2 linked regions of the Homo sapiens genome follow. The protein of the gene in region 2 interacts with the protein of the main gene of each other region in a pairwise test. Each region holds a gene or a part of one and is shown on either strand. Other genes may lie near its edges.

Region 1 (4,081 bases), on a different chromosome or scaffold from region 2:
CCGATGTGGTGGCGCTCACCTGTAGTCCAGCTACTCCGGAGGCCGAGACAGGAGAATCACTTGAACTGATTCTCCTATCTCAGCCCGCCCCGCCCCCCCCCCCCCCCCCCCCAAGTAGCCGCAGCGAGCCGAGATGGCACCGCTGCACTCCAGCCTGGGCTACAGAGCGAGAACCCGTCTCTGTAAAAGACACAAGGATGCAAACCAACCAAATAACCCACTGTGGGATCCCCTCCAGCGTCCTGCTGTGTTTCCCGCTGTCTTCCTCCACCCGTGAGTGCACCCACAGCAATAAAAGCCAGCGGTGTGGGTCTCACACGCATCTCCAGCCCCGTCGCCATCGCGCTGAGCTCGACTCTTTTTACAAAAGGCCACTTGACATCCTCACTTGGCAGTTCAAAAGCCCCTTCAACCAGATGTGCGCAAGCCAAGCTCCGCAACTTCCCGTTCAGAGCAGGTTCTCGGTCCACCTCTGCCTGAATGAACCGGCGGGCTACCAAGGCCGCAGTCTCTTCCTCAAGGGCTGTCCACACTGGGTCTCGCTTTCTCTTGGAAATTTCTCTCCCACCAGGGAACTTTCTCCTCCTCTACCTCCCTGAGTCTCAGTCTAACAGCACCCTGCGCCCAACCCCGAGGGCTGCAATAGCCTTCTTGCCTCTCCTGACTTATTCTGCGGACCCTGGGTTGGCGCTCCTTCACAGCCAGGCTGGTCGTTTCTGAAATGTTAACCCGCTGCCGGACACCGTTCCACGGTTTTCCGCTGCCTTGGAACAAGACCAGCTCCTGCGCGGACCCTGCCTCCACCTCGCACCACCTCCGGGCCTGGACTTGGCCTCCCGTCCATTCCCAGAATGTGCCGGGCTCCCTTCCAGTCCGGGCCTCAGCACACTCTCTTCACTCCCCTTCCTCCCTCCCTGCCTCTCCCAACCCGGTTCAGGATGACTAATTTCAAACGTTATGTTCCAGATTTCAGCCCAGATATCCCCGCTTTGGATGCTTTCCTTGACCATGCTCAGATCTAAGCTAATCGCATCTTCCTGTCAGCCGCTTTCAGGGCACCACACCTCATTGTGCTGACACTCAGAGGTCATTATGCAATTTTTTTTCCTCGATGATTAGATTAATCAATCAACCACGGACGTCTAGAAATGGCGGCATCTCAGAAGGGCCCCCATTTGACTGGCAGGGGACTGGCCCAATGCGCCTCGCAAGCCCAGCCAGGCCCGCCCCAGCCGGCCCCCCTCTGACGACGCCTGTCCCTTACGCGACTGCCTTGCTGCCATATAAGAGGGACGGCGCTCGGCCTCCAGCAGTCGGCTTTCTGCTGGGCTCGGAGCCAGAACCTGCTGCGTGCTCCCTCCAGACTCCCTGGCTGCGGGTGGACTACCTCAGAGCTACAGCGGTGAACCTGTGGACACCTCCGACTCCTCGGGCCTCTCTTCGTCGAAGAGTCTCCTAATTTTCAGATCTCCGGAGCCAGCTGTGGGAAGATCAGGTGTGTGTCTGGGGGTCCCGGAGGCGTGGACGGATCTCGGGTGGGTGCAGTTGGGGACAGAATCCTCATTCCCCTAGAAAGGCCACGGCCATCCCCCTGCCTTGTCACCTCTGTCTTCCTAAATCCGTTCTTGCTCTCTTGTTTTTCTCCCCAGCCCCTCCCGCCGATTGCTCATGGAGGAACCAAGGCCTTCGAAGCGACTTCGCTCCATGGCCCCTAATCAAGGTACATCAAACGCCTGCCACTCCTCTCTTTTTAATTTCGTCTGTTCCCCAATTCTTCCCCAATGGTTGACACTCAAACTCAATCAAGCATTCTCTGTTTCACCTTCTCCTAGCCTGCCTCAACCTGGGCTGCTTGTTGGAAGTCAGCTCCCGGGTTCCACATCATCTGGGAAATTCCTTTCCCTCTTCCGAACCGTAATCCCATTTCCCAAATCTGAGATTTGCTGTTGTTGTCGCTGTTTCCTTCTGTTTAGTTTTGTATTACTGTTTCTCCGTAGCAGAGCGAGTCCTCACGCTACGTCTTGATCTATGATAAACCGGTACTTCCACCTTGTTCTTTCCCGGAGGAGTTGGAATTTTCCGGCTGTTGCCACGTTGTTCTCCAAAACTTTTCCCTTCATACGCTGAGTGTCCTAAATCTTTTAATCTTGTCTAGTTTGACAGATGCATAACAATAAAGCATCCACTGAAAGGAAATTCTTTAACATCTTGCTTGTCTGAAACATCTTCATTCTCCCCTCCCAGATTCTTCAGCGAAACTTCGGTTGGACAGGAAATTTTAGGTGGGAAATTCATTTCCCTTGAAATTTCGAAGACATTTTCTGTTATGTTCTAGACTGAACTGCTGCTTTTGAGATGTCTGACTTTTGAGACATGTGGAATCCTAGCCCTTTCCATGTGACTTTTCCTTTCTCTGTCTCCCGCTCTCTAGAATCTGTTAGAATCTTCTCTTTTTCCTCAGCACTCTGAAATTTTCTGGTGAAATGTCTCAGCCACAGCATACCTCTAATTCTCTTATATTTCATCCTTCTTTCCATCATTTTAGGTTTTTGCTTTGTTCTGTGGGAGACCTTCTCAACTTCATTCTCCAACTTCCGTGGAGAGTTTTGTTTCTTCTCTCACAATTTTAACTTCAGAAATCCCTCTTTTCTCTGAGTATTTATTTGTAAAAGTATCCTATAACTGCTTGACGGGTGAAGTTCCTTCTGTCTCTCTCTGCTCACGCTCCGCTTCTCTTTTAGCCTCAGGTGGGCCTCCTCCAGAGCCAGGCTGCTGTGTTGCGGACCCTGAAGGCTCCGTGGAAGCAGATGGGCCCGCACAGCCAGCCCAACCCGCAAAACCCATCGCTTACGTGAAACCCTTCAGACGGCAGCCCCCAGCTCGCCCAGAGTCACCCCCTCCTGCAGAGAGAGGCCGGCGCCGGGGAGGAAGCCGGCGGCCAGGGCGAGGCCGTGGCAGAAGGGCTGGGCCCCGCGGGGACGCTGGCCAGAGACAGGGGGCAGAAGGCTTGATGGCACCGGACGTGCACATCCAACTGGACCACCATGGAGAGCCAGGCCACCAGGGGGAACCGGAAATCACGGAGACCGCAGCCTTCTCCCTTTCTGAAACAGGTCCTCCGCCTGGAACTGTGCAGGAAGGCCCTGGCCCCGACGTGGCGCAACCTGAGCTGGGGTTTCAGGAGCCGCCCGCTGCTCCTGGGCCTCAGGCTGTTGACTGGCAACCCGTCTTGACCCTCTATCCCTGCATCGGGTTTAGGGCTCTGGGTGACTCAGCGGTTTTACAAGTCATTCAAACCCCCCAGGGCACCTACGTGCAAGGGGTCCCAGTGTTCCTCACCGACATTGCGTATTGACCACTATCTGCCACCCACGTTGTTCCCAGCCTCCCTTCCTTCCACCTGGACGTTCCCCCCAGCCCCACTTCTGCTCCACTCCTCCCCCGACTGGACCTGAAGCCTGAGCTTCCCCTGAACTTGGAGTACGCAACTTACAACATGCAAGCTGCCAAACACCCTTTCTGTACAAGGCGATTGGAATGGAACTGTCATGTACAGTGAAAGTACACGTCACGTTTTTCAGCCAAGAAGAAGCCAACCCAGACAACCTGGAAGAAGTGGGATGCAACAAGGATCACTAAGCATGGAAATTAGGAAACTGTATTCTTAAGTCCAGAGAAGTACGATTCTGGAAAAAGGATTGATGACCTAGAATTAAAATTCCAGAAGACACTCATATAGACATGTGGGACATGCGAAAACTCAGAAGGAGCTAGAAGTTACTAAAGTGCTTCTCTAGTGCCTGGAGACGATAGACTGGCTGAATATAAGAGCAATAAAAATCTAGACTGACACATTTTTAAGTCTCAACGTGGGTACCCTTTGGGAACCACTAAATGAATTGGAATAGAAGGTAAAATTTCAAACAGATTGAGGAAAAAGGGGATCAAAGGACATGTGACGAATCAGACAAAAGGTGTTGGGGTGGGGGGGGGGGCGGTTAACGGAAGCAAGGAGAGTGCATGACTCACTGGAACCGCTAAACCAGGAATCAGTAATTTGACGGCAGTGTCCTTGGCTTCC
Region 2 (3,500 bases):
GGCCTCTTTTATAAGGGCAGTAATCCCATTCAGAATCATTTCCCAAAGGCCTCACTTCTTCATACCGCCACCTTGGGAATTAGGTCTCAAGCTATGAATTAGGACATAAACATTCAGACCATAGCAGAAAGAAAAGGAAGCATGGGCAGTGCTGAGATGGATTCCACAGGACTGTGCTAGAAGGAAAAGGAAGCATGGGCAGTGCTGCTGAGATGGATTCCGCGGGACTGTGTTTAGTTGTGCTCTTTCTTTTTCCACGGCAAAGCTTGCTGTTTAGGGAGTTAATTTCAGATTGGAATATGAGAAGAAAATTTATTTATGTGACTCTTTTCCTTTTTGGCATTTTCTTTGTTTACATGACTTTTTTTTTAAGAAAGTTAAATTTTAAATAATTTATGAAGCTAGAGTTTGGGGGATTTATATGTATAAAATTTCCTTCAAGCTTCTAGAGTATCGGAGTATTTGTGAATGATAAAAAGAAAGGTAGGGGAATGAGGAAGACCAGTTTATTACGAAGGCCAAAATTTATTGTATCTATTTCTGTGTGACCTTTGATAACAAAAATCAAGAACTTTTGTTTCCCTTTTAGGTGACAGGAGCCTGTTGCCTCTTTCTGGCTGGGAAAGTAGAAGAAACACCAAAAAAATGTAAAGATATCATCAAAACAGCTCGTAGTTTATTAAATGATGTACAATTTGGCCAGTTTGGAGATGACCCAAAGGTAAGAATGATAATAACTTCCTGCCTTCTGGTCTTGATTCCTTATGGTAGTATTGTACAGTTCCACATGTTGACAGTGCCTGTAGCCCTTGTGTCTGCCAGTCTCTTGAGTTCCTAAGAGGGCCTTCTGTAGAAGTTACTTGATGCTTTTGTAAGAAAGGAGGGAAGATCGTGTAGCCTACACTTACTCAGTGCTTCCTTATGTGCCCAGCAGTATTCTAAGTACTTTGGGGCAGTGGCACATTTCATGGATATGAGCAAAAATCCTCTTAATTGCCATTAGGACTCTGCTTCTTAAGTGCAGTGGTGATGGCAGGGTTACAACTCCAGCTAGCTTCTGGGTCAAACAAAAGTATGTATGCTGTATGTACACATACACATGCCTACATATGCCATGTGTCTTTTGCTTCTAAAGAATGTTGGAAGGTATCAACATTTGCAGCATTTTTATGCACCCAGAGCTTGATACTGGTCACACCAGCCATCCTATCTTTTCCATACAGCTCACGCCAGTGTCAGCAAGTGGTGCTCAAATAATTGTACATATTTTGTTGTGTTTTTAAAATACCACTTTTAGGGACCCATGGCAGTGTTCCTCCACTCCCATTCGCATCAAGTTCCCCTTGTTGCAACCTCAGTAACACCTGTTAATTATCCTTCATAACATTTATCACAGTTTGCAATTAAATAGATTTTCAAAAATACTTTAGGCCAAGCCGGGCAGATTGCTTGAGCCCAGGAATTCAAGACCAGCCTAGCCAACATAGCGAAACCCCATCTCTACTATATAAGAATAAACTGGCCAGGCGTGGTGGCTCACGCCTGTAATCCCAGCACTTTGGGAGGCTGAGGCGGGCGGATCACGAGGTCAGGAGATCGAGACCATCCTGGCTAACATGGTGAAACCCCGTCTCTACTAAAAATACAAAAAATTAACCGGGCGTGGTGGTGGGTGCCTGTAGTCCCAGCTACTCGGGAGGTTGAGGCAGGAGAATGGCATGAACCCGGGAGGCGGAGCTTGCAGTGAGCCGAGATGGCACCACTACCCTCCAGCCTGGGCGACGGAGCAAAACTCCATCTCAAAAAAAAATAAATAAACTAATATTACTTTAAAAAAAAAAAACCTTTATTATTTTTTGCTGGGCATGGTGGCACGCACCTGTAGTCCCATCTACTTGGGAGGCTGAGGCAGGAGAATTGCTTAAGCCTGGGAGGCAGAGGTTGCAGTGAGCCAAGATTGCGCTACTGCACTCCAGCCAGGACGAGAAAGCAAGACTCCACCTCAAGAAAAAAAAAAAATGCTTTTTTTTTTTTTAGAGCAGTTTTATGTTCACAGCAAAAATGAGTGGAAAGTACAGAGATTTCCCATATACCCCCCACCCAACACATGCACAGCTTCCCCCATTTTCAGCATCCCCCCGACCAAAGTGGTACATTTGCTATGACTGATGAGCCTGCATTGACACATCACCCAGAGTCCAAACTTTACATTAGGGTTCATTCTCAGTGTTGTACATTCTGTGGGTTTGGACATACGTATAGTAACATGTAGCCACCATTATAGTATCATGTAGTCTATTTTCATAGCCTTAAAAATTCTCTGTGCTCCACCTGTTTGTCTCCTTCTCCCCGCTAACCTCTGGCAACCACTGATATTTTTACTGTCTCTATAGTTTCACCATTTCCAGAATGTCATCGAATTGGAATCATATAGGATGTAGCTTTTTCAGATTGGTCTCTTTCACTTAGTGGTGTGCATTTAGATAGTAGTATCCATTAGATGATTTTTATCAAATTATCACACACATAACTCCCTCCCCTTCTCAGCTGTAAGATGCATGAAAGCAAAGACTATCTGTTTTGTCTAATGCCTCATTCAGTGGCAGGACAGAGTAGGCATTCAGCAAGTACTCGTGGAATAAATGTCAAACTAATGGTCTGAGGAAATTTCTAAATCACAGTTAAAGCTAAAGCGATGAAGTTCAGCCCCATTCATGGTGTTGTTTTTCCTAACTAGCTTGTATTGTCTCACAATAGTTATCTTTTTCTCTGCCAAGCATTATGTATGTATATACAAAATGTATAGTCATTCTCCTCATTGCTTTGAGGAGTTAACAAGGGCCCAGAACACTTTTATACATATTGTGGTTGTGATTAACACTAGTATTTTCTAAGTATTGCCAATGTGGGTAACTCTTTTGAACTTAATTATAAATCCATTAATCTGTTTATAAACATTTGAACCTATTAGGAACTCATATTAACTATAACCAAAAATGCAGTTTTATAGAAATAATTTCACCATCAGATAATGTTTTCAATGTGCATGGGTATTTGATTTTTACTGAGTAGTGGGGCCCTGTGTCCTAACGTGATAAGTCTGATTGTAGGAACATGCTGTGGTTCAGTCACACCCCCGTCACAGGGGCAGGTGAACCTTGTGGCTGGCAAGCTGTGCTTAAGGATAAGGCATCACACAGATCTGGGACCACAGCAGGGCATGGACTCGTGGCAGCTGCTGGTTTGTGCCATCCCAGGGTGCCTTGGAGAAGCCCCCTTTACTTTTAGCCTTTACCCACTGTACCATGAAGTCAGGAAACCAAGCCCCAGTCCAGGAACAGTGAAAGTAGAAGTTCTGAAGCTCCTGTGCCCCAGAAAATGGGAAAAGAGGGGTCACCATACCAATTAGGTCTGAATGGGGGAGGGGGCTTTGCAACCTGCCCCCTGCCTCTCTATCTCGCGCAGTCTTCCCTGGTCGGAGTCGGGGCCAAAGGAAAACA

Evidence for each region.
Region 1: the proteins of CCNK (region 2) and PRR20C interact in a two-hybrid assay, tested with the Homo sapiens proteins (one large-scale study listed by BioGRID).

What each region holds. Positions count from the first base shown.
Region 1 is NC_000013.11:57,152,780-57,156,860, forward strand, and holds the start of PRR20C (proline-rich protein 20C), read left to right. Parts: upstream 1-1,281; 5' UTR 1,282-1,495; intron 1,496-1,649; 5' UTR 1,650-1,668; coding exon 1,669-1,720; intron 1,721-2,741; coding exon 2,742-3,355; 3' UTR 3,356-4,081.
Region 2 is NC_000014.9:99,494,909-99,498,408, forward strand, and holds part of CCNK (cyclin-K), read left to right. Parts: intron 1-589; coding exon 590-721; intron 722-3,500. UniProt on the Homo sapiens protein: Regulatory subunit of cyclin-dependent kinases that mediates activation of target kinases.